Linked DNA regions of Homo sapiens. The protein of the gene in region 1 interacts with the protein of each later gene in a pairwise test. Each region holds a gene or a part of one and is shown on either strand. Other genes may lie near its edges.

Region 1 (15,191 bases):
AAAAAGGGAAAAGGAAAAATCAGAACAAAGAAATTAGCAAAGCAACAGGGCTCATTTCCTGTTTGTTTGGGGTAGGAAGCTGTATTCATTTTATTCTTCTGATTTCCAAAGAAAAACATTTTTGTGGGCCCGGGACACTGTGCCTACTGGGTTAAGTAGGCCTTGGTCAGTAGATGAATAATGAGCTAAGTGATCAAGTTCCCATGTTTCAATCTCACATCTATAACTGAAAAATGTATATCCATTCAATGGGGACCCTTTTTCTCACACACAAAGCACATGTTTACAGCAGACAGGCTGAGAAACATATCATCTGCAGCCAAACAACTAAAAAAAAATACCATGACACAGTCAAGAATCATAAAGTTTACTGTTTCTTTTCCATCATTTGGCACATATCCAAGGCACATTAGAAAATTAGAAATCATAAATTACTTTGTAGAAAAATAATCCCTCCCTTCCTTCTGTACATACACAAGTATTTCCAAGAACATGGACAAAACCATTTCCCTATCACAAGGTCATTTGAAAACGGACTCAGGACAAACCCATATACGTGTAGCTCTAGGCCAATAACATAAAAATAACAGTATAATCTATAGAAATTTATAAAAAGGAATAAATGGCAATAAATTCTAACCGAAAGTAACTCTGACCTGGTTTGTGCTGTTAAGTTTTGAATTTGAATCAAAAGACTAAGAAAAGATGTGCCAAATCTACTCTCTAATCCAGTAACCATCCCGTCAGGTGTGAGTGTGACAGACATTCAAGGGAGGTTCTCAACAAAAAGGGATGTTTCTAGAAATACTGCTACAGGTGCACGTGTAGTAACCGAATATCTGTACCTACTTGTTAGAAGGAAAATGATAACCACCCTTTCCCATGTGCATGATGTGGAACAGGTCTGATGCATCCTTTCACTAAAATGAATATCAAAATGGGATTGAGGCATCTTTTGGTTCGAGTGTTGCTTTGCAAAGAAACATTGTCCAGCTGCTGCTTTCTTCCTTCAGATATGACATTTCAGCCTGGCCTCTACAGTACCATGAAACCTAAATTACTTACTTCTCTCCAGCTTAATCCTAGGTGGAGGAATTCTAGCTGTGGTTTGTGAATGTACACAGGTCAGAGAGGTTTAGCACCTTTTGGGAGGAGGAGGTCAGAATGCGGTGGTGAAACCTCTCCCACTGTGACCAACAAACCCTCATACTTAAAAAGAAGCATGCACCTCTGGCTTAAGGATCTGGATGCTACTGGAATTTTTGTCTGTTTCAATTGTATTCATTAGCTTTGAAGAGGAGAGAGATGGTGGTGGTTAACTTTTTTGTTGCATTCTTTCCTGCCACAGAAAAGCTTTCAGGAACTTGGTGCTGAAGACTTCTCAAGCCAGTCTCATGGAAGCACATTTAGTTCTCAGATGTGTTCACGCTCAGCATCATCTTGTTGCATCCTTGCTTCCTAGCAGTGGGTTCAACAACTCCTCATTCCTGTTAGGACCGGGAAGCACTAACCTCTTGGGGAGTGGAGAGGGGGCCAGCAGCCTCCGGGCCCTGGGACACGACCGCATCCTCTACCGTGTGTCTCCGCAGCATCCGTCTGTGTCCAGGGCCAGTCTGTGTCAGTCCAGGCCTCTCTGGCCAGTCGCTGTTGCCTTTCTCAGCAGCATGAGATCCACTCTGAGCTGGCAGGTTATTCTGTCTCAGTGTGACACTTTGCCTCCCTGGCTAAAGAAAAAGTACATTTTTAACCGTTGACGTCCTCACTGTACTGGAAGCCACAACCATGACAGTGACAGCTGCCCCTTAGTGCCTAGTGTCACATAATGTGCTCAGTGCTTGACAGGCATAATTTCAATTCTCACATCCCTGTCGTGGTAACATGGCATGTGCATACTACATGTGTCAGAGTAAATGTTTCACTTGTTTTCACAATCTTTATGACTCTAGGAGGCATGTACTACTATTGTTATCCCCGTTTTACACCTGAGGAAACAGGATCAGCAAAGTTAAGCCACCTGCCTAAAGTCCTACAGCTAGCAAGGGAAAAGCTAGCACTTGATGGAACTCAGGCAGATTTCAACGATTCTGGCTTTCCCACAAAGCAGCAGGTCTCCTAGCAACACCACATAAGACTAAATATGGTATCAAAATTAGTCATGTTAATTAAAATCATTTTAATTATCTAAAACAATTTAGAACTTTTGTGTATTTGTTCCAACAAGCCTATGCTACATATGCTATAAATTCTCATCAGCAACAAGGAAAGCTGTGGTTCTGAGAAGAATCACTGTCTCCGATCACAGGTTTTCAATCAAGCTTCTGAGTGATTTAAAAATGCAGTAGGGTCCGGGCACGGTGGCTCACACTTGTAATCCCAGCACACTGGGAGGCCAAAGCGGGCAGATCACTTGAGGTCAGGAGTTCAAGACCAGCCTGGCCAACGTGGTGAAACTGCGTCTCTACTAAAAATACAAAAAAATTAGCCAGGAATAGTGGCACATGCCTGTAATCCCAGCTACTCAGGAGGCTGAGGCGGGAGAATGCTTGAACCCGGGAGGTGGAGACTGCAGTGAGCCGAGATCGTGCCACTGCACTCCAGCCTGGGCCACAGAGCAAGACTCTGTCTCAAATAAATAAATAAAAAAATGTAGTGGGAAGATGGCCACATAAAGAATTGTCTGAGCAACTGTACACCATACTTGGAGACATCATTTACCCATCTATATACAAACTGTCGTTTTCTTTCTTTGGTGATTAAAACCATAGTGAAATGTGGGATGTTTCATCTCCTATAAGCACCAAGACCTGTGGTTTCCCACACATGTAACACTTTCCACTCCTCTGCTCAGAAATGTACTTTTAGTTATAACAATCAGTGAAGTCTGTACTCTACACTGTCCCATGAAATAATTCCAGTTTTAACTGCTGCTAACTCATACGGCGCACGGAATAATGAAGATGACGATCAAGGAGACGTGTTTACCATGGATTACTTTTGACAAAGCCGGGCTTTAGAAAATATGATTAAAAGCCAGTGTTTAATAACTTACCTCATGCAAAGAACCTTCGGTTAAATTAGGGACACTTCTATCTCTTGCCATAATCTCCCTTGAAGTCTTTCCCCTAAAACCCAAAATAAACGAAAATAAATATTTGGGACAGTGGCATGAAACACTCTGGTTGGCCACAAGGTGGCAGCATTTTTGACATTAGTAGGTGCAGATTTGTCCATAACCAATTACAATTGAAGCAGCTTACGTGCAGCTTGGAGTAAACTAGGGGCAAAAGCACAGAAATCAACTTGAGTTTCATACTCACTTAAACTGACCAGCTGAGTGGACAAAGTAAAACTGTCTTGTAAAAGGCTCATCTGGTAGATCATACAGTTTTGAGTTCCCTGTAGATAAAAAGATAAACATCTAAAAACTTCAAAAACAGTTGTAAAGATTATTTTAAAATTACAGCACAGACACAATCTTTCTATTCTCAGATTTACAAAATTTAGAAACTGAAGCACTGAATTTGCTTAAAGAAACACAGCTAGTACCTATTTATAACAGGTTGAGTATCTCCAATCCAAAAATCTAAAGCCTAAAATGCCACAGGCTGGGTGCAGTGGCTCATGCCTGTAATCCCAGCAGTTTGGGAGGCCGAGGTGGGCATATCACTTGAGGTCAGGAGTTCAAGACCAGCCTGGGCAACATGGAGAAACCCCATCTCTACCCAAAATACAAAAACTTAGCCAGGCGTGGTGGCACGCACCTATAATCCCAGCTACTCAAGAGGCTGAGGCAGGAGACTCGCTTGAACCCAGGAGGCAGAGGTTGCAGTGAGCCGAGATTGCACCACCACACTCCAGCCTGGGCGACAGAGCAAGACTCCATCTCAAAAAAAAGCTACAAAATCCGAGACATTTTGAACTCTTTGACTTCATGCTCAGAAGAATCTGATTTCCTGATTTGGATCCTCAACCAATGAGTATAATGCAAATATTCCAAAACCCAAAACACTGCTGGTCCCAAGCATTTGAGATAGGGGGTAGTCAGCCTGTATTATGAGAACCCCCATGAAATAGAAAAATAAAACCTTAACTCCCTTAACTCCCCCAGCCACAACCAATTACGGTGAGACAGTCTCAGGGTTATCGAGATATGTGAATGGGTTTATCCATATTATTGTATTGCATTATTGCATACCTCACTGGATAATATTTCATATTGTAAATTAAAAAAAAAAGTAGAACAAGGACCCCTTCTAAACTTTTTAAAAAGAAGAAAATACTTCAGTCTCACTGCTGTTCGGCAACTGCTGTTTTAATTATAATCAACCTCCGTACACGTACAAACTTAAAAAAAAATCTTGAGGCCAGGCGCGGTGGCTCACACCTGTAACTCCAGCACTTTGGGAGGCCAAGGAGGGCGGATCACTTGAGGTCAGGAGTTTGAGACCAGCCTGGCCAACATTGTGAAACCCTGTCTCTACTAAAAATACAAAAATTAGCCAGGCATGGTGGCACGTGCCTGTAATCCTAGCTACTCGGGAGGCTGAGGAAGGGGAATAACTTGAACCCAGGAGGCAGAGGTTGCGTGAGCTGAGATTGCACCACTGCGCTCCAGCCTGGGTGACAGAGTGAGACTCTGTCTCAAAAAAACTAACTAAATAAAAAATCTTGGTGGCTCACACCTGTAATCTCAGCACTTTGGGAGGCCAAGGCGGGCAGATCACGAGGTCAGGAGATGGAGACCATCCTGGCTAACACGGTGAAGCCCCTCTCTACTAAAAATACAAAAACAAAATTAGCTGGGCGTGGTGGCTGGCACCTGTAGTCCCAGCTACTTGAGAGTGGGAGGCAGCTACTTGAGGCAGGAGAATGGCGTGAACCCAGGAGGCAGAGCTGGCAGTGAGCTGAGATCACACTACTGCACTCCAGCCTGGGTGACAGAGCGAGACTCTGTCTCAAAAAAAAAAAAAAAAAAAAAATCTTGAAAGGTAGCATTTACCCTGGATGTCCAGGAAATGCCCAGAACACCTGACTTTGGAACATGAGGCATGAAAGAAACTATCCCAGAGACTGTTCCCCATCTCCATAGGCAGACACCTGAACCTTCAAGGTAGTGTTGACAGTTTCTATCCTATTTCCTCAGGAAACATCATTACCATCAACCAGAAAACTAGTAACAAAAAAAGCTTACCCATAGTCTGATAAATTGGGAGGTAACATACATTTCTTTGGTGCCTGTATCTCCTCCAGGCATGATTATAATTACACTTTACATATACAATTAAATGAACACCAGCAACTACTCATGAATGTCTAAATATACCCAACTTGAGCGTGACAGAAAGAACGTAAACTCTTACATTTTTTCCTGATCTTAACAGTGACATACTCCTTGCGGTCAGTTTCAGCCACATCATCTAATGAAGCAACACAGCTTGGTACCACCTGAAGCAATTCCATTATTTTTGAATTCTGCAATTTGAAAGGGAAAAGGAACAGTAATGTTTTTATTCTTTTTTAATAGGTTATTATTTGTTTTTGATCTAAATGTCAGTATTAGTGTGACTGGGCAGAAAAAGCTCAGAAATAATTACAAATGGAGCTTGGAGGCCATAAAGCCCAGTGGTAAAAGCAGGCCTGCATGGGGAGCCCGGCTCTGCTTTTACCACTGGGTAAAAGCTCTGCCCTCTCTGTGGACTCCACGCTGGGGATTCAACCACTCCATGCAACCAGCTCAACCATAATAAGATCTACTATCATATGCTTATCATGAGGCTGTTGAGGGCCCCCATATAGTAAGTACTCATTGAAACACATTAATTAACTGGGCACGGTGGCTCACGCGTGCAATCCCACCACTTTGGGAGACTGAGGTGGGAGGATTGCTTGAGCCCAGGTGTTCAAGACTAGCCTGGGCAACATAGCAAGGCCCTGTCTCTATTTAAAAATAATAAAAGGCCAGGCGCGATGGCTCACGCCTGTAATCTCAGCACTTTTGAGAGGCCGAGGCGGGTGGATTGCTTGAGCCCAGGCAGTCGAGACCAGCCTGGCCAACATGGCAAAACCCTGTCTCTATTAAAAAAAAATTAGCTGGTCATGGTGGCACACGCCTATAGTCCCAGCTACTTGGGAGGCTGAGGTTGGAGGATCATCTGCGCCCAAAGGTTAAGGCTGCAGTGAGCCAAGATTGCACCATTATACTCCAGCCTGGGCAACAAATTGAGACTCTGTCTCAAAAAATAATAATAATAATAAAATTAAAAATTTTAAAAACCAAAAAAAATTCAACATAATCATTTAAGAAAGTACTAAACTGAGAGTTTAAAATATTTCAATTCTGTCACTGAAAATTAATATAAGGAGGCCAGGCACAGTGGCTCACGTCTGTAATCCCAGCACTTCGGGATGCCAAGGGAGGCGGATCAGTTAGGTCAGGTGTTCAAGACCAGCCTGAGCAATATGGTGAAACCCGTCTCTACAAAAAATACAAAAATTTAGCCAGGTGTGGTGCCACGTGCCTGTAATCCCAGCTACTCAGGAGGCTGAGGCACGAGAATCGCTTGAACCCAGGAGGCAGAGGTTGCAGTGAGCCAAGATCACGCCACAACAGAGCAAGACTCTGTCTTAAGAAACAAAAAATTACTCTAAGGAGCCTGTCCATGGAGTGGATTGATGGTGATGTTAGCTTCTCAGTTGTGTCACTTAACAGCCTACTCGCTGTCTATCTTGGGTAGAAAACAAAAGAAAGACTCAGCAGGAAAACAGGAACAGAAAGAGCTGCCGCTCGCCAGGGGAAAAGGACCCTTCCCCGCCGCTCTCCACGCAAGCATCCACAGCACTGGAGAAGGCAGTAGGCCAATAATCACGATTCCTACAGGACTCAAGGACTTTTACTTTCATTTTTTTGAGATAAAGTCTCTGTCACCCAGGCTGGAGTGCAGTGGCACAATCTCAGCTCACTACAGCCTTGACCTCCTGGGCTCAAGCGATCCTCCCACCTCAGCCTCCTGAGTAGCTGGGACTACAGGCATGCACCCCTATGCTCGGCTGATTTTTTGATTTTTTGTAGAGAGGGGGTCTCACTATGTTGCCCAGGCTGGTCATGAGCTCCTGCGCTCAAGTGATCCTCCTTCCTTGGCCTCCCAAAGTGCTGGGATTACAGGCATGAGCCACTGTGCCTGGCCTCAAGGAGTTTTAAATCCACCAACAAAACAAACCTTCTCCATCGTGCTGCTAAGACAACGGCTGTGTTCACACTGTGAGGATGGTGACACCAGAACATCATGACTTGCTCCTTCCTGAGTGCCTGACTCTATGTAACTACCGGACCACAGCCCTACTGCTAGCTGAGGGGGGGGCCCCTCCACTCAGGCCTTTGAAAACCACCTGTGAAAAGAATGATTCCTGGTTCCCAGAGCACCACCTCTGACCAGGAGACTGAGGACCAGCCATCTACCCACGCTGTGGACTTCTGGCACACCAACTACGCCCAGCCCGGCGATGCCAAGGGCCAGGTGTTGCTATTTTAGATCCAGCTTAAACAAAGGGATCCAGAGGGAGCTGTGAGGAGCTCAGGATTCCCTCGGCTCTTCGACCCTCTCCACCTACCTGTTCAGCACAGTCTACAGCCGTGCGCTGCCGCTTGTTCAGCACCTGAACTGACGCTCCGTGGAGCAGAAGCAGCTCTACCACGAAGACGTGCTTTTCAATCACAGCCTCGTGCAGCGCTGTGTTGCCCTTATTGTTAGAAGCGTTAATGGAGGCCCCGTGCTGGAAAGAGAAACCACACGATCAAAAGGAACGCTACGAAACGTCAGCATGGAATCTGGCTGTGGGTATACAGGTATTCGCTATAAAACACATTGTTTTTTTTATGTCTGAAAGTTTCCTTAAAATTTGGGGAGGAAAAGTAATACTGAGAAAAAAAGATTTATAGACAAAGAGTTCGCTGCAGCATTTATCCTAATAGCAGAGAAAACAGAAGCCACTTAAATGTACAGAGCAGAAACAGGTTCAAAAAAATCACTATGGTATATCCATAGTTATGCAACCATTAAAAATCAAAGTTTGAGTAAATAAGTTTCTACATTAAATAACATTAAGACAGAAAACAATACTTGGGGCCAGGCACAGTGGCCCATGCCTATAATCCCAGCACTTTGGGAGGCAGAGGCAGGTGGATCACCTGAGGTCAGGAGTTCAAGACCAGCCTGGCCAACATAGTGAAATCCCATCTCTACTAAAAAAAAACACCAAAAAACAAAAAAATTAGCTGGGCATGGTGGTGGGCGCCTGTAGTTCCAGCTATTCGGGAGGCTGAGGCAGGAGAATCGCTTGAACCCCGGAGGCAGAGGTTGCAGTGAGCTGAGAGTAAGCCACTGCATTCCTAGGTGACAGAGCGAGACTCCATCTCGGAAAAAGAGAAAACAATACTTGGCGAGGCCCCGTGGCTTACACCCGTAATCCAGCACTTTAGGAGGCCAGTGCAAGAGGATCGTTGGAGCTCAGGAGTTTGAGACCAGCCTGGGCAACATAGTGAGACCCCCATCTCTACTAAAAACAAACAGCAAAAACTAGCCAGGTGCAGTGGTATGTATCTGTAGTCCCAGTTAGCTGGGAGGCTGAGGCACCTGAGCCTGGGAGACTGAGGCTGCAGTGAGCTGTGAGGGTGCCATTGCATTCCAGCCTGGGCCACAGAGCAAGACCTTGTCTCAAAAAAAAATTAATAAATAACACTGAAACTATACACATTTGTCAAAAGTCCACCATAATGAGTTTCCCTTGAGTAGCACAGTCATGGACAGGTTGGTTTTTCCCTACTTCTTTAAGAAATTCTAATGCATTCACATAACCTTTTTCAAGAGCAGCAGGGACAGAGGCGGCCACTCAGCCCATGCTCAGGTAACAGCGTGACACATTCCCGGTCGGTGAGGTGAGACCCAAACCCTTGGCAAAAGCAGCGTCGGAGCCCTTGAGACCGCATCCCAGATGCTGGGGCACCATCTGTTCCCATCGGAGAACCCCGTGTGGGAAGACGCACGCCCTGCTCCTCTCCCCAGAGGCCTGGGGTTGATGGGTGGCCGGGCCTCTCCATCCCCAGTGCGCTGCGGGGGTCGCTGGGTGGAGGCGCCCTGTTAACTGGCGCAGGTGTGTAGAATGAGGACAGGAAGGGGCCCTCACCTGTAGCAGCAGTGCCACAAGCTCGTGATGGCCACCGGAGCAGGCGTAAATGAGGGGCGTGTTTCCACTGAGGTCCTTCTTATTGGGTTTTGCATTCGAATCTAACAGACACTTCACCACCTGGGCCAGAGAAGGAAAACGTGCAAACTTAATCAAAATTTCTGTCATTTCCTGCCAGAGAAAAATTATGAAAAATAAATAAATAAATAAATAAAATAAGAAAACAAAGTTTCTGGAGAGAAATGCTCAAGTTTGATATTCTTTTGACTTGTCTCTGAGCTTATTTTTTTGTTGTTGTTCTTTTTGGTTTTTCTTTCTTTTTTTTTTTTTTTTTTCCAGACAGAGTCTCGCTCTGTCGCCCAGGCTGGAGTGCAGTGGCGTGATCTTGGCTTACTCCAGCCTCCGCCTCCCAGGTTCAACTGATTCTCACGCCTCAGCCTCCTGAGCAGCTGGGACTACAGGCGCCTGCCACCACGCTTGGCTAATTTTCTGTATTTTCAGTAGAGACGGGGTTTCACCATGTTGGCAGGGCTGGCCTCGAACTCTTGACCTCAGGTGATCCACCCGTCTCGGCCTCCCAAAATGCTGGGATTACAGGCATGAGCCACCACGCCCAGCCGTCTCTGAGCTTATTGAGAAGACTTTAGACTCTCAGGAGAAAAGGGACCAGGTGAAGAGGGGAGGGCTACCATCTGCTGCGGGGCTGCTCTGTGCGGTTGAAGCGCAGGGTGACAGTGATCTCACTTCACCCGATGTGCTGGGCGACAGTGATCTCACTTCACCTTTCTATCCTTTCTACCTCAGGGAGAGCTGCAATCGCCACTCCGAATTTACAGATTAGGAAAGCCATGCCTGAAGCTCTATGCTAGGTGTTGGCGAGAGAGATGCAAGACCTGAAATATGGCTCCTTTCTTTAAAAAGTTAACAGTAGAACTGATAAAGGAAAATGAAAAAATATACACACAGTTTTCCTTAAAGAAAAGCAGGGCCTGGTGCTGTGGCTCATCCCTGTAATCCCAGTACTTTGGGAAGCCAAGGTGGGAGGATCGCTTGAGCTCAGGAGTTCAACACCAGTCTGGACAACATGGTGAAACCCCATCTCCACAAAAAAAAAAAAAAAAAAAAAAAAAAAAAAAAAAAGAAAAATTTATCTAGGTGTGGTGGTGCACGCCTGTGGTCCCAGCTACTAGGGAGGGAGGCTGAGATGGGAGGATTGTTTGAGCCCAGGAGATTGAGGCTGCAGTGTGAGCTGAGATTGCACCACTGCACTCCCACGCTCCAGCCTGGGAGACAGAGCAAGGTGATGTCTTAAAAAAAAAAAAAAAAAAAAAAGGCAAAAAACCCCAGCACTTTCAAAAAGTTAATCACTCCAAAATTCAAAATTCTTCCTTGAGCCCCTCTATGGGGCCCTGACTGTTCTTTATGAAGTGCTGAACTGTTTGGCCCAGAGCAAGGCACTGTCGGGGTGTAAAGGTGGTAAGATGACCATGGGGACAGTGCTCGGTGGCCACCACACGAGCTCAAGAGCCAGATCCTGCTGGGGGCAAGAATCAGAATGACAACCTCGGTATCACCCAGATGGGAGTGGCAGTGGGGCAGGGACTGGCTCCACCCCCAGGGAGCATCAAGGCTCTGTGCTCCGAGGCTGAGTGGCCTACCGTGTGCACCTCAGAATCTCAGGGCTCGGGGGAGCAGTGTCCTCCAGGGTAGCCACCAAACCCCTGCAGCGTTCCTACCAAGCACAAGGTCCTAGCCCAAAGCAGACACCCTGCTCCACCACCCCCAACACACAGCCCGAACCTGAAAGTGGCCCTGCTGGCAGGCCAGGTGGAGCGGGACGGCTTGGTCTGCGTTCCTGGCACCTGCGTTGGCCCCGTGCTTCAGCAGGAGGGGGATGAGGTCCGCCCGGCCGTGCAGGGCGGCGACATGCAGCGGGGAGGAGCCGTCCTGGCTGGTCACGTTCACACCAAGCCCACTGGCAGGAACCTTCGCCAGCCTCTGGGAAGCGCAGAAGATGGAAACACAAACGTCATCAGTATTGAAGAAACTGGGCTGGAGTGATTGGCACCATGTGCCCCCCACAGCTCCCACACACAATGCGGGATCATGGCGGGATCCAGGATGGATTCCAATTTGTTTAGAAGTATGTGGCATGCCAAAAAACAACTTCCTTTTTTTTTTTTTGAGACAGGGTCTCACTCTGTTGCCCAGGCTGGAGTGCAGTGGCACCACCATCATGGCTCACTACAGCCTCGACCTCCTAGGCTCAAGTGATCCTCCCGCCTCAGCCTCCCAAGTAGCTAGGTCCACAGGTGCAAGCCATTGTGCCCAGCTAATTTTTTTTTTTTTTTTTTTTTGTAGAGATGGGGTCTCACCAGCTGGCCCAGGCTGGTCTTGAACTCCCAGGTTCATGTGGTCCTCCCACCTCAGCCTCCCAAAGTGCTGAGACTGCAGATGTATGCCACTGTACCTGGCTAATTTCACTTTTTTTTTTTTCACCAGGGCTGTAGAGCCTCCAAATTTCCTTTGAGGGGCATGGCCACAGCCCCGCAAAGGCGACGAGATTCACTTGCTGTTTGCACCTCTGTTTAAACCACCGCTATAAGAAACAGTGATTCTTGGGTTTAGGTGAGAATAATTTTACTTTTTGATGATTAAAAATGTTACCTCTTTAAAAAAAAAAACTGTATGCTAAATTAAAGGCTGAATTTTATTATATGTAAATTATATCTCAAAAATAAAAAAGAAGCTGGAAAACACACATGTGCACATACATACACACACTAAATGAAATACCCTGCATATTTATCAGAATGGCTAAAGTTAAAAACTCAAGGCTGGGCACAGTGGCTCATGCCTGTAATCCCAACACTTTGAGAGTCCGAGGTGGGCAGATCACCTGAGGTCAGGAGTTCTAGACCATCCTGGCCAACATGGTGAAACCCCGTCTCTACCAAAAATACAAAAATTACCCAGGTGTGGCGGCACCTGCCTGTAATCCCAGCTACATTACAGGCATGCATTGGGCTGTAGAATCGCTCAAACCCAGGAGGCGAAGGTTGCAGTGAGCCAAGATCACACCACTGCACTCCATCCAGCCTGGCTCACTGCAATCTCTGCCTCTCCGGTTCAAGCGAATTCTCCTGCCTCAGCCTCCCAAGTAGCTGGGATTACAGGCGTGTGCCACCACACCTGGCTGATTTTTGTATTTGTAGTAGAGACAGGGTTTTGCCACGTTGGCTAGGCTGGGCAACAGAGCGAGACTCCATCTCCAAAAAAAAAAAAAAAAGTCAAAATACCAAATGTTGGCAGGGATGTGGAGCAACTGGAATGCTCAAACCCTGCTGGAGGGAACAGAAACTACTCCAACCACTTTGGAAAACTGGCAGTTTCTTTTAAGGTTAAACATATCCTTACTATATAATCCAGCAATTATACTCCTAGGTGTTTACCCAACAACGTATATATCCACACAAAGGCCTGTAACTCCTAGGTGTTTACCCACCAACGTATATATCCACACAAAGGCCTGTACACAAATGTTCACAATGGCTTTATTTACAAATCCAGAAGCAGGAAAACTACTCAGATGTCCATTAACAGGTGAATGAAACAACAAATTCTGGTGTGTCCACCCAATCAACTACTATCCAGCAATGAACTCCTGATCCAACATGGGTCTCAAAAATATCCTGAGTCAAAGAAGGCAGACATGAAAAGGGACATGCGTTAGAATTCCACTTACAAAAGATTCTCGAAAGTGTTAACTAATCCATGATGATGAAAAGCAGGTCACGGGTTGCCTGGGAGAGGCGATGGGGGAATGGGGGGGTCATAGTGGGGGGGAAGGCAAAATCTCACAGGAAACTCTTGCAAGTGAGGGAAACGTTGTGTATCTTGATGGTGGTGATGGTTTCACAGGTTTATATATCTGTAAAACTTGCCAAATTGTATACTTTAAATACATATGCTTTATGTAAATATAAATTATATAAATTATAATGTATATAATTATATTTCAATAAAAGATTTAAAAACAAATTCTAAAACACCACTGGAGACCGGGTGTGGTGGCTCACGCCTATAATCTCAGCACTTTGGGAGGCTGAGGCAGGAGGATCGCTTGGGCCCAGGAGTTCGAAACCAGCCTGGACAACACAGCCAAGACCCTGTCTCTACAAAAATAAAAAAAATAGGCCAGCAAGGTAGCTTACGCCTGTAATGCCAGCACTTTCGGGAGGCCGAGGCAGGTGGATCATGAGGTCAAGAGATCGAGACCATCCTGGCCAACATGGTGAAACTCCGTCTCTACTAAAAATACAAAAATTAGCTGGGCATGGTGGCGCATGCCTGTAGTCCCAGCTACTCAGGAAGCTGAGGTAGGAGAATTGCTTGAACCCAGGAGGCAGAGGTTGCAGTGAGCCGAGATGGCGCCACTGCACTCCAGCCTGGCGACAGAGCAAGACCCTGTCTCAAAAAATAAATAAATAAATAAAATAAAATAGCCCAGCATGGTGGTACGTGCCTGTAGTTCCAACCATTTGGGAGGCTGAGGCAAAAGGATCCCTTGGGCCCAAGAGTTTGAGGCTTCAGTGAGCTATGATTGCAACACTGCACTCTGGCCTTGGTGACAGACCAAGACCGTCTCTAAAAAAAAAAAAAAAAAAAAAGTTTAGGCCAAGCGCAGTGGCTCATGCCTATAATCCCAGCACTTTGGGAGGCTGAGGCAAGCGGATCACTTGAGGTCAGGAGTTTGAGACCAGCATGGCCAATATGGCAAAACCCTGTCTCTACTAAAAATACAAAAATTAGCCAGGTGTGGCGGCATGCACCTGTAGTCCCAGCTACTCGGGAGGCTGAGGCAGAAGAATGTCTTGAACCCGAGAGGCAGAGGTTGCAGTGAGCCAATATTGCACCACTGTACTCCAGCCTGGGCGACAGAGGGAGACTCCGTCTCAAAAAAGAAAAAAAAGAAGTAATACATTAAACACCACTGGAGGCCTGGTGTGGTGGCTCATGCCTGTAATTCCAGGACTTTGGGAGGCTGGGGCAGGAGGATCACTTGAGCCCAGGAGTCCCAAGCTGTAAGTGAGCTATGATTGTGCCACTGCACTCCAGCCTGGGTGACAGAGTGAAACCCCATCTCTAAAAATTAAAATAAAATAAAATAAAATAAAATAAATCACTGGGCTAGAAGAGGATGGGGGGAGTGGATTTTCATTTAATCACAGACATGAAGCAGTTTAGTGGTGTGTCTTTTTGAGAAATCACAAAAAGAGAATAAGAGGTTTTAGAAGTACAGGGAACCTAAGACTTCACCCAATTGAGTTCCACAGTATTTTACTGTGTAATTAAAGTGGGAAAACACAGGGAGGAGAAAAATGGCAAAAACAGCAGCAGCGGAGATGCAGCAATCTCGCCACACACAGGTACTGAGGGCCCGAGGGCTTCATCACTTCCCACCAGATGCTAGGGAACACCATCTGCCTTTCTTATCCTGTGTTTTCATAGCCACCCACCTCGGGGAAATTGTGTTCTGGACCATGTGCATCCAGCAGCAGGGGGCCAGGTCAAAAGGTGCACATCCCCAGTGTACATGTTACCTCACAGCTGAAAAATGTGTGAGGGAAAACTTTAGTCATTTTCAATATCCTTAGAGTCACCCACGCTGAAGTTCTTTTTAGAAATGGTAAAATTATCCTACAATATAAAGGCTAACACCACTCTATCTATTTTATAAAGTCAAATCCATTTTCTTTTTTTTGAGATGGAGTTTCACTCTTGTTCCCCAGGCTAGAGTGCAATGGCACGATCTCGGCTCACCGCAACCTCCGCCTCCTGGGTTCAAGCGATTCTCCTGCCTCAGCCTCCCGAGTAGCTGGGATTACAGGCATGCACCACCACGGCCAGCTAATTTTGTATTTTTAGTAGGGATGGGGTTTCTCCATGTTGGTCAGGCTGGTCTCGAATTCCTGACCTCAGGTGATCTACCCGCCTCGGCCTCCCAAAGT
Region 2 (15,669 bases), on another chromosome or scaffold:
CTGAGATTCCAGGCCTGAGCCACTGCGCCCAGCCCTAAAACGTAGGCGCTTCTGACGCACGCTACAACACGGATGAAACTGGAGGGCATTATGCTCAGTGAAATAAGCCAGCCACAGAAAGACAATACTGTGTCATTCCACTTATACGAGGTCCCTAGAGTTGTCAAATCTGTAGAGACAGGACGTAAATGATGTTGTAGGGGTCAGGGGAGGACGGAGAGCTGACATTTGGTGGGACCGAGGTTCTGTCTGGGGAGATGGAGAAGACCTGGAGATGGAGGGTGGTGACGGCTGCGCCGCGGTGTGAATGTGCTTGATGCCCCTGGACGCTGCACTGGAAAAGGGTGATAGTAAGTTTCATGTCGCCTACATTTTACCACCATTTAAAGATCCAAACAGGCCGGGCACAGTGGCTCATGCCTGTAATCCCGGCACTTTGGCAAGCCAAGGCAGGTAGATCACTTGAGGTCAGGAGTTCGAGACCAGCCTGGCCAACACAGAGAAAACCTGTCTCTACTAAAAATACAAAAATTAGCCGGGTGTGGTGGCTCATGCCTGTAATCCCAGCTACTTGGGAGGCCGAGGCAGGAGAATCACTTGAACACAGGAGGCAGAGGTTGCGGTGGGCCGAGATCGCGCCATTGCACTCCAGCCTGGGAGACAGAGCGAGACTCCATCTCAAAATAAATAAAATAAAATAAAAACCAAACAAGGCTGGGGCTGCGCTGCAGTGCTGACCAGCTCCAGCGAGGGAGGCCGAGGCAGGACAGTGACCAGCACGGTTTCTCTGAGTCCCTGTTTCCTCAGGCAGCAGCAGGAATGATAACCTCCACCTCTCAGGGTTTCTGGGAGGCGAACGTGGGTGAACCTCGGATGCCCTGAGATGGTCACTACCCGTCGGCCCCAGGCCGGATGCTTCTGGATCCTCCCTTGCCCCCAGCCCCGCTGTCCCCGTGGCCATCCTCTCCACTGCATGCTGGGCTACGGCAGACACCCCGGCCCGGTGGACACAGCAGTCACAGCTGCCCAGGAGATGCCGGCGGGAGCCACCAGGACGGAGCCCAACCTTGGGAACACGCCTTGCAGTGTGGGGACAGGATGAGGCTCTCGGGAGAGAGGCTGCCACATGGAAATCAAATTTCTGTCAACCAGTGCTCTTCAACTGTTGGGAAGGGCAGCACCCCCCACTTTGACAATTCTGGGAGCATTTCTGATTGTTGTAGGAGGTGGCAGTGTTGCTGGCATCTAACGTACGGGGGCCAGGACACTGCCCAACACCCCACAGTGCTCAGGTGCACCCCAACCAAGAACCCTCGGCCCCACGCATCCACGGGCTGGGTTGGAGACACCCTCGCTTAGTGCTGAGGGCCATCCAAGGGCCCCTGGACCAGAGGCCGAGGGACAGCCGCACCCACCTCCCTGCCCAGGCTCTAATGGGGTGGGCTCCACATTCCACAACTTGCTTCCACCCTCGGTGGTGCCCAGGTCCCCCCCCCACCATGGGCCCTATTGTGGACCAAATGTTTGTGTGCCCCCAGATTAATCTACTGGAACTGTACCTGCAAAGTGATAGTCTTTTATGGACCAAATGTTTGTGTGCCCCCAGATTAATCCACTGGAACTCTACCTGCAAAGTGATAGTCTTTGAAGATGGGGACTTTGGGCTCCCGTCTTTGGACTCTGCAGCTGCAGACCAGTCCTGCATCCTCACTGTCCCCGATCCACACCTGCAGGGCCAGATGGCCCATGGCAACGAGAATGACGGAGCCACTTCTTCCAGGGTTCCACCGACTCAAGACCAGCTCAGACCCATCCCCATGCACAGCGCGCCCTGCCTGGCTCCGAGGGGTGGGAGGTGGTTCATTAAGAGGCTGCACGGTGGTGAGCACGAGACGGGAGTGAAGAGGTTTGGGTCGGGGATTTGGGTTGTCCTGAGGACAGACCACCCACCTGCCTGAGCCCCCCATTTCCTATGAGTGCAGGACTCATTCCTATGAGTGTAGGAATGCTGAGGGGCATGTCGGGATGACAGGCAGGGTCGGGGGAGTGTCCCAGGAAAGGCCCGAGGCTGCACATCTCAGCCCTCACTGACCCAGCACGTCCGGCCTCAGCTGTGTCTGGAAACGCGCCGGATGCCTGCAGAGAGCCCACACTCCCCTGGGCATGGTCGTGGTCTCAAGTTGTTAGAACGTCACCCTCACATAAATGGGAGGTGAACGCACGTTAGGTTCACCCGGGTCATGAGTGGGGGGCCCGGAAAGACTCAGGAGCTGGCTGGAGACGTTCCTGAAAGCCCCGATTCTGCAGCCGGTGGAAGCAGCAGTGACACAGAATTGCTAAGTCAGACGCCAGGCTGCTGGGTCCACAGGACCAAAACCGCTGGGCCAGGCAGGGTCACGTTTTCCGTTTTCTACAAGTTCACTACAAACCTTCCAGGGCTGCACAGTCAGTGTGGAGGAGAAGTCAAAGTTCACTCCCCGGGGAGGTGTGGCAGCATTGCCCTGTGGTCAGCCCCGCCCTGGAGGCGACAGGTGTGTCCACTGATGGTTCTGATGGGACCAGGGCAGAGGGGCTTCCTGCCGGAGCTGTCGACCCCCGGGTGGAGTCCTGAAGGACCCAGGGGCGCTGACCCAGTGAGAAGGGCCACGCACGTGCAAAACGGGGGCCTGGTTTTTTCAGGTGCTGGAGTGGCATGGAGTATTCCAGAAACACATCGTCTGGTGTCCTCAGCAAAACAGCTGAGAAGAGCAGACGTGGGCTGTGCCCTCACATGGGGCAGGAGCAGAACACAACAGGGCCATGAGCTCAGCGGTGCCAGGAGGCGCAGCCAGTGTGAGTAGGGCACGTGGGCTCCGCCGGACTGCAGTAGAGGTGGGGGTGTGAAGAGGTCAGGTGAGGGTTGGGTAGGGGTCAGGTGGGGGTCGGATAAGAGTGGAGGATTGGGTGAGAGTCAGGTTGGAGGTGCAGGTCGGGTGGGGTCAGGTGAGGGGTGAGGATAGAGTGAGAGGTGGGGGTCAGGTTTGAGGTGGGGGTGTGAAGAGGTCAGGTGAGGGTTGGGTGGGGGTCGAGTGGGGGTTGGGTGAGAGGTGGGGGTCGAGTGAGAGGTGGGAGTTGGGTGGGGGTTGGGTGAGAGGTATGGTGAGAGGTGGGGGTTGAGCGGGGGTCAGGTTTGAGGTGAGGGTCAGGTGGGGGTCAGGTTTGAGGTGGGGTTTGGGGGGAGTCAGGTGAGACAATAAGGTGGGGCCTGAGGGGTCTCAAGGGTGGATGGAGAAGCGCCCCAAGCACTCATCCTGGGTCTCTTATGTCCCAGCCACGGCCAGCAGCCATCCCCGAACCCTCCCTGCTGTGCCCAAAGGGCAGAGCCAGTGCCCGGGGCCCTCACCCGCTGGGAAGACCAGAGACCACAGGGCTGGAAGGCGGACGCAGGCTTCCCCTATGAGCACTCGGAAGGCACGTGCTGTCTCCCGTCGGGGGTGGGCGCTGGTGCAGCCATGTTTGGAGAGATCCCCTCCCACTTAGTTCTCAAAGTGGGGTTCCTGGAGCTGTAGCATCACCACCATCTGTAACCACGTTGCAAATGCAGATTCCTGGGCCCCCAGTGCTGAATGGGAGCCTCTGGGTGTGGCCGCTGTGCCCTGCTCCAGCGTGGGAACCACTGGCGGGGGGCTCTGCTTCTGAAGGGAAGAGGGGACTGTGTGAGGGGCAGCGGTGCAGGGGTCCCGTAGTGCAGGGGAGAGCAGAGAGGGGCCTGGCGACGGCCTCTGCCTCGCCCACCAGCCTCATCCAGCTGTGACCTTGTTGCCTCTGCCCCCGCTGGCCCTCCCGGCTGGAAGCTGCGTCATCTGCTGGGGTTTCAGTTCCGTGCGCTCAGAGGACGCACTAAGATGCAGAGATGCGGGGCCCCAAGCATGATGAGACCCCCAATGTAGTTGATTCACCCGGAGGTGGGCACTGATCCCCACTGGGGAATTCCCTTATATGGGAATTTGGGGATCAGACCTGAGAGTGAGTGAGGCCGTTCTCTCTCCAAGGGGTGAAACCTGGGGGCCATGTTTTCTCCTGTGAGGAGGGAGCCCCTCTGCAGCGACAGGAAGACCAGCGGGCACCGTGGGAGGAACAAAGGCGGCAGGTGGGCCGGCCTCGCCGGCACTGGGTCCCTGGCTCAGCTACTTCCAGGCCGGCCACACCTGGCCCTTCCCACAGCACAGCCGGTCAGCCCTTCCCAGCTCACAGGAGACACTCCCAACCATCCTTCCATAAAATCGACATCGTGCTTAGGCTGGTTCAAGTTGCATTTCCACTGTTTGCACATCACAGACGGAACTATTTTAAAAATGAAAAACATGTTAGCCTTCAAGCTAAATTTGGAAGAAGAAAAAAGAAAAATGCCCCCTCCCTGTGCCCCCTCCGTGGGAAAATGCTGAAATAGATATTATGTGAATTACTGAGGCTGGTTTAACTTCCAGCAACAGAAAATCCATCTGGAGGTGGCACCAGGGAGCTGCTCTGTATCACAGGACAGGAGGCTCGTGGGTGGGCCCACAGTGCCCAGACGCTGAGAGGAGACTTGGAGTCTGCGTTCCTGTTTGCGAACCCCCAGCAGACGCCCTCACATCTCACTGCTGGAGTCTCCTCGTGGGCCACACCTACATGGTCACAGGCAGGAGTTGGCAGGAGCACAGGCATGGCTCAGAGCAGCAGTTTTCACAGTGGGGCCCATGGGCCCCCACAGGTCTCTGAGACCCTTTCATGGTCCTATTGGATTAGAGCCCACCCTACGGACCTCCTCCTAACCTGATTACATCTGCAAAGACCAAAGTATTTCCAACTAAGGTCACAGTCACAGCTTCCAGAGGGTGTGATTTCAATAAATCTTTTTAGGGACTCCATTCAACCCAGACAACCAAAACTTCATACGTGGTGAACCTTTGTCTCCTGTTTTCTCACGACTGCAGACAAGCCTAAACAAGATGACTTTTTTTTTTTTGAGACGGAGTCTCGCTCTCTCACCCCAGCTGGAGTGCAGTGGCACGATCTTGGCTCACTGCAAGCTCCGCCTCCCTGTTTCACGCCATTCTTCTGACTCCCAAATAGCTGGGACTACAGGCGCCTGCCACCACGCCCGGCTAATTTTTTTGTATTTTTAGTAGAGACGGGGTTTCACCGTGTTAGCCAGGATAGTCTCGATCTCCTGAACTCGTGATCCACCCGCCTTGGCCTCCCAAAGTGCTGGGATTACAGGCTTGAGCCACCGCGCCCGGCCTTTTTTTTTTTTTTTTTAAGATAGCATCTCACTCTGTTGCCCAGGCCGGAGTCCAGTGGTGTGACAGCGGCTCACTACAACCTCTGCCTCCTGGGTTCAAGCAATTCTCCTGCCTCAGCCTCCTGAGTAGCTGGGACTACAGGCTAGCGCCACCGTGCTCAGCTAATTTTTGTATTTTTAGTAGAGATGGGGTTTTGCTACGTTAACCAGGCTGGTCTCGAACTCCTGACCTCAAGTGATCCACCCACCTTGGCTTCCCAAAGTGCTGGGATTACAAGCATGAGCCACCACGCCCGGCCTCACCTCCACCTTCTGATGACATTTTACTCGTGGAGAAGCATCAGTAAATGTTCCTTTCATTCCTTCTGCCCACAGAGGCCTAGTCTCCAGAGCAGCCCCAGATCATGGGTGGGTGGATGTTCAAGGAGATTTCAGCGTGGCCACAGGGAGGAATGTTCCGATGATCCGAGATGGACAGGTCTGGAAGCCTGGCTCTGAGTTGGGCAGAAGGTAGGCTAGTGCTGTCCAGACACCTCCACCCTCTGCCTGGACTTTACACATGTACTGAAACTGGGGAGGAGGAAGAGGTATCCCACCACAGGACTGTCCCTCAGGAAACTGGGGGCCCTGGTGGGAGGAAACCTGCTTTGGCTGTAGAAATAAACACCTCTGTTTGGTGAAAGCAATGTTTGGGGCAAGAAGATGGACACCATATCTGAACACAGCCCTCTTCTGACGTGGTTATTTTACCTGGCCCTCCAGGTGGGAGTGGCCATGTTCCAGCTCAGCCAAGGCCAGCTTGGAGGTGACAACTAGGAGGTGGTGAGGACCTTCTGTGGGGCAGGAGAAGAGCAGACAAGGGCTCCCCCATCACCTGTCCTCTGTAGGAAGTGGTCTGGCCACCCCTCTCCATGCCCCACCGTGAACACTGCTGGACTGCTGGGTGTGACCCCGAGGGTGGGCTGGGGGCCTCCTGACCCCTATTGTACAGTGAGTCTGGATGTGTAGGTGGGGAGCGAGCAAAAGAAGGTACCCTTTCCTCACTAGGTAATAGCCATGTGACCCACAGCTGATTGGAACATGGAGACTGAGGGTTAGGGATGGGAAGGAAACTCCCCTGAATTCTTTTTGGCAGAGTGGTGGGGCTGGGGACTAAATGCCATCTTTCTCATAGTTTTCTAGCGTCCACCTTCCATCCTCTTTTCTTCCTCTGACCTTCCTTCTAAAAAAAAACAGTGCTGCAATCCCAGCATTTTGGGAGGCCGAGGTCGATCACTTGAGGTCAGGAGTCAAAGACCAGCCTGGCCAACATGGCAAAATCCCATCTCTACTAAAAATGCAAAAATTAGCTGGGTGTGGTGGCACATGCCTGTAATCCTAGCTACTTGGGAGGCTTGAATCCAGGAGGTGGAAGTTGCAGTGAGCCAAGATTACATCACTGCACTCCAGCCTGGGCAACAGAGCAAGACTCTGTCTCAAAAAAAAAAAAATGTGGCTGCATTAGTAACTAAAGCAACTAATCAACCAATGAATAACAGGTGTTGCAAACTAAATTGGCATTCCAAAGTAAACATTTTCTAGGTCCAAATGAATGCAAATGACAAATATAATAATCTTGACTTCAGTCTCTTTTGTAATTCTTCTTCCGCTCCCTCTTCTGTTCCTCCCCCACAAAAAACTTCTAATGGGGTCTAGAGCAGTTCCCTACACAACGCAGGGTGGAGGGGATGAAGTAGTGGGGGCATTATCCTTCTTCTTGGACGGAGCTCGCCCTTTGCCTGCTGCCTGAATTCTGCACCAAATAAACCAATGTGCACCTGGTGAGACCCTCAGAGCGAAGGGCAGACCTCGGCCTGGCAACCCTTGCTCTCTAGAGCAGAGGAGAAGCCAAAAGGCTGGAGGGTCCCACCCAATGCTCTCCTCCAGCACGCACGCAAACACATGCATGGATGCACAAACAAGCGCACGCACACATAGGAGCGCATGCATAGAAGCAGCACACGCAGACACACACATGCAAAGATGCCTGCAAAGGCACACATGCACACGCACATACATGTGCAGACACCTGCAGAGGCACACATGCACACGCAGACACACAGATGTGCAGACATCTGCAGAGGGACACATGCACACGCACATACATGTGCAGACACCTGCAGAGGGACACATGCACACGCAGACACATAGATGTGCAGACACCTGCAGAGGGACACATGCACACGCAGACACATACATGTGCAGATATCTGCAGAGGCACACATGCACACGCAGACATGCACACACACGAACACATGCACACGTACACAGGCGCATGTGCACACACAGGCATTCAGGCACGCCGCGTAAATGGGGCAACGACGAGGCCCTGGATGAACCGTGGGGAGAGACCGCGAGCCTGGATTCTACGGCGACAGGGACTCCTCCGGCGAGGCGGCCTGCGGGGGCCTTCCGGCCGCGTCCGCCAACTGGACCGACCCCGAGCCCCACCCGGCCAGGCACCCGAGGTCTCCCTGGTGGGCAGGTGGGGAGGCCCCACGCTGGGACCCTGCACCGCCCCTCGCCCCTCCCGACTCGGGGCGTGCAGACCCGACGACCGTGGGAGCGAGTTCGTGGCGCTCACGGGCGCACGCGAGAGTGTAAACACCCGGCCCCACCCCCTGATCGCCCCCACCCCGCCCCGCCATTGGCTGCGGGAGCAGAGTCCCCGCCTCCTGCTTGTTCTGGCTCCGCCCCTGCCCCGTCTCCGGGCCTCCATTGGCTGTGGTGACAGCGACCTTTCAGGAGGGGCGGGTGGGCGACAGCCCGGAGGCGGTGACGAGAGTAAGATGGACGGACAACCAAGCCAGTGAAAGCGCGCAGCTGCCCTAGCAACTGCGGTCCACCAATGGCGGGGCCGGGCGGGGATGCGCGCTGTCAGCGCTGGGCGGCGGGGCGGGGCCGGAGGCGAGCAAGGACTCGGGGCCCGCGCGGCGCCTCTCGGGGCCGGGCCGCCGCCTCTGCGCTCAGCCCCGCAGGCCGGGCATGGGTGGGGGCGCCGGGCCGTCACGATGAGCGCCCTGGGCAGCCCGGTCCGGGCCTACGACTTTCTGCTCAAGTTCCTGCTGGTGGGCGACAGCGACGTGGGCAAGGGCGAGATCCTGGCGAGCCTGCAGGATGGCGCGGCCGAGTCCCCGTACGGCCACCCGGCGGGTGAGCGCGGGCGGAGGGCGTGCCGGGGTGCGGGCGCGGGGCCGGGGAGGGGCGCGGGGCTGGGGAGGGGGTGCGGGTGGGGGTCCGGGTCCGGGGACGCGAGACCGGGCAGGGGTCGGGAAGAGGCCGGGGCGCGTGGCCGGGGAGGGTAGGAGTCCCGGTCCGGGGGCGCGGGGCTGAGGAGGAGCGCGGTTCGCGGGCGGGCCTTTCTCCGCCCGGCCCTGGCCCTCGTGCTGCGGCGTCCCTGTTGCACCCCCAGTTCCACTCGAGGCCCCGCGGCGCAGTCTCCATCCTTCTCCGCAGTCTGCGCGCAGCGGGAGCCCGCGGCTGGGCCGGGCGCTGGGCTCCTCCCGACCTGGGGCCGCTGCTGTGGGGACCCGGGGCGGGGGCTCGAGTCCGCAAGTGCGCGTTCGGCCGCGGGGCAGGAGGGGCGGGAGGGGACGCGAGCTCCGGGGCTCCTGGGGCGGAGCGCGGCGAGCAGGCGCCCAGGTGCTGGGTCTGCGCGTGGGTCGGAGGGGAGGGGAGACCAGGGTCCGGTCCCGAGGCCAGGGGTCCCGCGTGTCCGGGGGAGAGGAAGGAGCACAGGTGACTCGCGTGCGGAAGAGGGGACCCCCCACGACAGCGGCCGGAGAGCGGGTTCCAGGGCGAGGGGAGGCCGGAGCGCCCAGAGCTCCCAGGCAGGCAGCCCGGGGATCCCCCAAGTTTGAGGCTTGAAAGCCGGCGCCCGGCGAGGGGGTGGACGGCTCCGGGGAAAGAAAGGCGGGGGCAGGAACCCAGGAGAAGGGGGAACGCGCAGAGGCGAACACCTCGGCTGGGAGTGAGGAGCAGGCGGGGCCTTCACCCACGCGCATCCCTGGAACAGCTTGGACGAGGCCGACCCTGAGGCTGTGGAAGGAGCCCAGCCTGTGCCCACCTTCCTGCCGCGCCTCGGGGCTGAACCCACGCTTCCAACAGAGACCCGCTCTGAGTCCTGGGCGGAGGAGGGCAGCCGGGCGTGGAGATGGAGTCTTGGTGGGAAGGACCTGTCAGCTCTGGGGCCTGGGAAGGGTCTGGGAAGCCCCAGGTCCAGGGTCCTGCCAGAGACGAACTTAGCGGGAGAGGGTGGGAGGAAGCGGGATCTGAGGCTGCTCGGTAGAGGGTGCAGGCTGTCCCCTAAGGGCAGCTCCAGGCAGGCGGCGTGAGCACCAAGGGAGTGTGGCACGGCTGGAGGGGGTGGCCTGAGACTGTGGAGCGTGGGGTGGGACTCAGGTGCCCGGCCACACCTCAGCTTAGGGGACGGGGTGAGGAATGGGCAGAGTTTGGGGGAGCAGCTGAGATGGGCTTGGGCTCACGACCAGCACCCAGAGGCCTCCTGAAACTGCAGCATGCGGGGGAGTCTCTGGCAGCTGGTGGGTGCAGAGTGTGCTCCGTGGGGCAGGAGGGGAGCCTGCGTCTCTACCTGTCCCCAGGCGCCGCTGCCCCCGCATGTCCTACCCCCCTCCCCGCTCGGTGGCAGGTCTCTAGGACCGTGGTGTCCAGTAGGATGCCATGAGCCACGTGTGGCTGTGGAAGTGTAATTAGAAGGAAAGAAAACAAAAAGCTTCCATTCGTCACATTTCTAGATAGTTCGGATGTCGCTGTGGCAAAGTCCGAGGGCCAGCGCTGCCCTGGAGATTGAGCGCCTGGAGGACAGGGCTGGAGATTGAGCGCCTGGAGGACAGGGCTGGAGATTGAGCGCCTGGAGGACAGGGCTGGAGATTGAGCGCCTGGAGGACAGGGCTGGAGATTGAGCGCCTGGAGGACAGGGCTGGAGATTGAGCGCCTGGAGGACAGGGCTGGAGATTGAGCGCCTGGAGGACAGGGCTGGAGATTGAGCGCCTGGAGGACAGGGCTGGAGATTGAGCGCCTGGAGGACAGGGCTTTGTCTGCACTGTGCCCTCGGGGTCTGGGCTCAGTGAGGGATGAACCCTACCAGAGCTACAGGAATAAAGCACCCAACAACGTGTACGCCCAGACGAATATGGCGCTTTAAGAGCTGTGCGTGTTTTGGGGGAGCAGACGGTTGACAGTGTTGAGTTTGATTGAAGGTGAGTGCCGTGGGGCGTGTGTGAGAAGGGTCACGCACAGAATGTTTGTGAAACTTCCTTCTGGTTGGTTTGAATGGAGGCTCGGGGATGCTTCTGCTGCGTGACTTTTGGTTGCTACATGCCGAACTGAGGACGAACCAAAACAATGGTCCAATGCTTTGTAATAAAGGCTTTCCCTTGACACGGAGGGAGGATTTAGGCTAAAAATACACCTCCCACCGGGCCGGGGGCGGTGGCTCACACCTGTAATCCCGGCTTTGGGAGGCCAAGGCGGGCGGATCACCTGAGGTCAGGGGTTCGAGACCAGCCTGATCAACATGGAGAAACCCTGTCTCTACTATAAATACAAAAATTAGCCGAGCATGGTGTCACATGTCTGTAATCCCAGCTACTCGGGAGGCTGAGGCAGGAGAATTGCTTGAACCCGGGAGGCGGAGGTTGCAGAGATCGCACCATTGTACTCCAGCCTGGGCAACAAGAGCGAAATTCTGTCTTAAAAAAAAAATCCCATCAAGAGCTTTATTGTCTACTTGGCCTGAGCTGCTGTAGAAAAAACTGATATCACGGGTGTACCCTTGCAGGTTTTTGATTTACCAAATATTTGTTTTAGAGTTAAGAAAAGATATTCTGAAAAATAGTAAGAAGTTGAGATCATTATGTTTTGTTTTTTATTTTTTCAGAGACAGGGTCTTCTCTGCCGCCCAGGCTGGAGTGCAGTGGTGTGATTGCAGATCACTGCAGCCTTGACCCTCCTGGGTTCAAGCCATCCTCCTTTTTTGGCCTCCTCAAATGCTGAGATTATAGGCCTGAGCCACAGCACCTGGCCATGTTTTTTTTTTTTTTTAATGACATGTTTCGCTGAGAAACACTATAGGTGCTTGTTATTGAAAGGTGAGGGCAGCCGGGCGCAGTGGCTCACAGCTGTAATCCCAGCACTTGGGGAGGCCAAGGTGGGCGGGTCATGAGGTCAGGAGTTTGAGACCAGCCTGGTCAACATGGTGAAACCCTATCTCTACTAAAAATACAAAAATTAGCTGGGCGTGGTGCCGCGTGCCTGTAATCCCAGCTACTTGGGAGGCTGAGGCAGGAGAATCGCTGGAACCCAGGAGGTGGAGGGTGAAGTGAGCTGAGATCACACCATTGCACTCCAGCCCAGCGACAGAGTGAGATTTTGTCTCGAAAAAAAAAAAAGAAAGAAAGAAAGAAAGAAAGATGAGGGCGTTCGTAACTCCACACTCCATTTCCCTCCACCCAATTCCTCCTGAGTTTTGTAGCCCAGGCTGTTATTTTTATATTGTCCAGGTTTATAGCCCTTGCTTCTGTATTGTGGCTGTAGTGCCCGCAATGATTTAGTATCAATTCAACATTTAAATACAGTCAGTGCTCACCAAAGTCCTTTTACCATTTATGTCTCTGTTCATTGTGCTGTCCCTCTTAATCACCTAGATTTCATTATCAGTCGTTTTTTCAGAAGGACTCGAGTATTTCCTGAGTGTTTTTTTGTGTCTGAGAATGTCTGCCCATGGTCTTTATCTTTGAACAATGTAGAGATATCTTGGCTGGGTATAATACTCTTAGATTTATTTTCTTCCCCAACACTTTGCAGCTGTCATTCCACCATCCCCTGGCTCACATGTGCTGTGGGGAAGCCTGAGGTCAGCTGATTTTTCCCCATGTGGAGGCTTGTCCTTCCCTTCATGAATTTCTGAGGAATTCTTTCTTTTTGTCTCATAGTTCTTCTGCTTAACCAGACCATGTCTCAGAGTTGAATGTTTGTGTTAAACTTTTAGTATGAACGTACTCTTTGAGTTTCCAGGTGTGTGTGTGTATGTGTGTGTGTATGTATTTTTTTTTTCTTAGATGTAGTCTCAATCTGTTGCCCAGGTTGGAGTGCAGTGGTGTGATCTCACCTCACTGCAACCTCCACCTCCCAGGTTCAAGTGATTCGCCTGCTTCAACCTCCCAGGTAGCTGGGATTACAGGTGCCTGCCACCACACTGGGCCAATTTGTTTTTGTATTTTTAGTAGAGACGGGGTTTCCATGTTGGCCAGGGTGGTCTCGAACCCCTAACCTCAGGTGATCTGCTTAGCTCAGCCTCCCAAAGTGCTGGGATTACAGGTGTGAGCCACAGTGCGCGGCCTGAATTTTTCTGATTATCTTATGCCTTTCCTATTTGTTGGTAATTTTGATTTCAGTAAACTGTTCTAGCTGTTTCTAACTTATTGATTAGTTCAGTAAAGATGTTATTTTTGTCTCCTAATTTTCTCTTAGTTTTGGAGTTTTCCTTTTTTTTTTTTTTTTTTTTGAGATGGAGTCTCGCTCTGTTGCCCAGGCTGGAGTGCAGTGGCACGATCTCAGCTCACTGCAACCTCTGCCTCCCAGGTTCAAGCGATTTTCCTGTCTCAGCCTCCTGAGTAGCTGGGACTACAGGTGTGCGCCACCACGCCTGGCTAATTTTTGTATTTTTAGTAGAGACGGGGTTTCACTTTGTTAGCCAGGATGGTCTGGAACTCCGGGCCTAAGGTGATCTGCCCGCCTCGGCCTCCCAAAGTGCTGGAATTACAGGCGTGAGCCACTGCGCCTGGCCAATGTGCACTTCTGTGACTGTGTCTCTGGCCCCCGTTATGTGAAAGAGACTCTCCCATGTTGTGTGAGGCTGTGGGGTGTTAATTCTCATGGTGGTGACATCCCTTTTGTGACTCTACCGTGATTTATTCTCCATCCTGCGGGTGACGGGCATTTGGGTGGTTTCAGGTTTCTGACTATTATGGTTTGTTCTGCCATGAACATTCCTAGTACACATCCTTTGCATTTCTGTTGAAAGGTCCCTATGCGTGTGAATCGCTGGGTATCAGGCACGCAAATGTCTGCACAGGTTTCCCTGTAGTAGATTCTCGCAAAGCATTTTTCACTTGGTGCTCCCACCAGCAAAGCTGGAGGCCCCGGCTGCATCATCTTCCCTCTCAGCACGGGGCTGTCTCTGTCCTTCTGTGGTGTGTAGTTTGCCTTTGCATTTCTCTGATGACTGAGCACCTTTTCATACGTCTATGCGAAATTCCTCTTTGGAAAAATGCCCAAGTCGGCCGGGCCTGGTGGCTCACGTCTGCAATCCCAGCACTTTCAGAGGCCGAGGCGGATGGATCACCAGAGGTCAAGAGTTCGAGACCAGCCTGGCTAACTTGGTGAAACCCCATCTCTACTAAAAATACAAAAAAAAATTAGCCAGGTGTGGTGGCGGGCACCTGTATTCCCAGCTACTCGGGAGACTGAGGCAGGAGAAGCACTTGAACCCGGGAGGCGGAGGTTGCAGTGAGCTGAGATCGCACCACTGCACACCAGCCTGGGCAACAGAGTGGGACTCTGTCTCCAAAAAAAAAGAAAAAAAATAGAAACAGAAAGAAGAAAAATGCCCAAGTCTTATGTCTGTTTTTTCATTTAGGTTGAATTTCTTTCAATGCTTGCTAGGAGTGTTTAAAATATAGATTCTGGCTGTGAGTCCTTTGTCGGCTGTGTGATCCTGGATAGCCACTCTCATCTGCACGTCACCTTTCCACTCCTTCAGTGGTATTTTTGGATGAACAGAAGCTCTTAATTTTAACATAATCCAAATTATCAGTGTTTTGTGGTTAGGACTTTGGGTCCTGTTGAACAAACCTTTGCTGCTCCCAGATTTAAAAAAAAAATGTTCTCTACAAGCATCGTTTTACCTTTGACATGAATGGCTGCCTCCAGCTGGGGTGAGGCCTGAGGCAGGGATCGAGACACACTTTTTTCAGTCGGATGCCCCCCACCCCCACCCCGCATCGCACGGCCACCGTTGTCCCAGCTGAGAGCCCGCCTGTGGGTCTGGGTCTGCACCGTTGGCCCGCCTGTCTCTTGTGTGTGTGCCCCGGGTCAGACTCTGTCTTCTGTGGATGGGCATGCCCTGTGCTGGCCAGGGCAGTCAGATGCATCTTGTCCTTGCTCAGGCAGCTGTGCCCAGGTGTTCCCTTTGCTCCGATACGGTCAGCGAGGCCTGGATTCTCCCTCCTGGGCGTTTGTCTTCCTCTCGGTCTGTAGTTGCAGGGCAGAGTTCTTGGATCTTGGACCCTGTCGGCAACTTGACTCCACAGACTATGTGGACCCCACTGCTCTGCCTGTCACCTCAGCCCACGGACCGTGCGGGCCCCACTGCTCTGCCTGTCACCTCAGCCCACGGACCGTGCGGGCCCCACTGCTCTGCCTGTCACCTCAGCCCACGGACCGTGCGGGCCCCACTGCTCTGCCTGTCACCTCAGCCCACGGACCGTGCGGGCCCCACTGCTCTGCCTGTCACCTCAGCCCACGGACCGTGCGGGCCCCACTGCTCTGCCTGTCACCTCAGCCCACGGACCGTGCGGGCCCCACTGCTCTGCTGGTTACCCAGGGAAGTGTCTTCTGTTCTGCAACACACCTCACACACGCTGGTACCCCTGGTTCCTGGTGGCCTGGACCCCATTTCCGTCTGGCAGCTGGGTCCCCGGTTCACGCTCTTTCCCCTCGGAAGTTCCATTTCTCTCCAGGCAGGGGTAGAAGGAAGGCGTCACCAGGCTGGCCCAGGATATGGTCGGGGCACAGCAGGGCCCTGCCTTTCCGCCACCCCAGCTGGTGCTTCCAACACCAGATTGTGTCCCTTCTCTGAGTGCTGAGTTTTCTGCCTTTTGCCCATTTTTTTGTTGTTGTTTTTTGAGATGGAGTCTCGCTCTGTCGCCCAGGCTGGAGTGCAATGGTGCCACATCGGCTCACTGCAACCTCTGCCTCCTGGGTTCAAGTGATTCTCCTGCCTCAGCCCCCCGAGTAGCTGGGATTACAGGTGTACCATGCCCGGCTAATTTTTGTATTTTTAGTAGAGATGGGGGTTTCACCATGTTGGTCAGGCTGGTCTCGAACTCCTGACCTCAGGCAATCCGCCTGCCTGGGCCTCCCGAGTAGCTGGGATTACAGGCGTGAGCCACCGCGCCCGGCCTTTTGCACATGTTTATTGGTGACAGGGAGGGGGGTGGATTAACTACACCAGATGCCACCACCTCTTGCCTCCCACCCTTTTCCCCAGCATGAGGGCCTCATTGTCTTCTCCAATCCTTTCTCCTGGCTGTTTCTTCAGTGTCCTTTTCCCAGCATAAAAGTCC

What was found.
Region 2: the proteins of ANKRD27 (region 1) and RAB40B interact in a two-hybrid assay, tested with the Homo sapiens proteins (one study listed by BioGRID).

Annotation. Positions count from the first base shown.
Region 1 is NC_000019.10:32,596,655-32,611,845, forward strand, and holds the end of ANKRD27 (ankyrin repeat domain-containing protein 27), read right to left. Parts: intron 11,816-15,191; exon of another isoform or gene 11,683-11,815; intron 11,179-11,682; coding exon 10,981-11,178; intron 9,301-10,980; coding exon 9,181-9,300; intron 7,771-9,180; coding exon 7,609-7,770; intron 5,473-7,608; coding exon 5,361-5,472; intron 3,397-5,360; coding exon 3,318-3,396; intron 3,123-3,317; coding exon 3,050-3,122; intron 1,725-3,049; coding exon 1,491-1,724; 3' UTR 352-1,490; downstream 1-351. UniProt on the Homo sapiens protein: May be a guanine exchange factor (GEF) for Rab21, Rab32 and Rab38 and regulate endosome dynamics.
Region 2 is NC_000017.11:82,691,241-82,706,909, reverse strand, and holds the start of RAB40B (ras-related protein Rab-40B), read left to right. Parts: upstream 1-8,211; 5' UTR 8,212-8,313; coding exon 8,314-8,455; intron 8,456-10,056; exon of another isoform or gene 10,057-10,521; intron 10,522-15,669. UniProt on the Homo sapiens protein: RAB40B small GTPase acts as substrate-recognition components of the ECS(RAB40B) E3 ubiquitin ligase complex which mediates the ubiquitination of target proteins.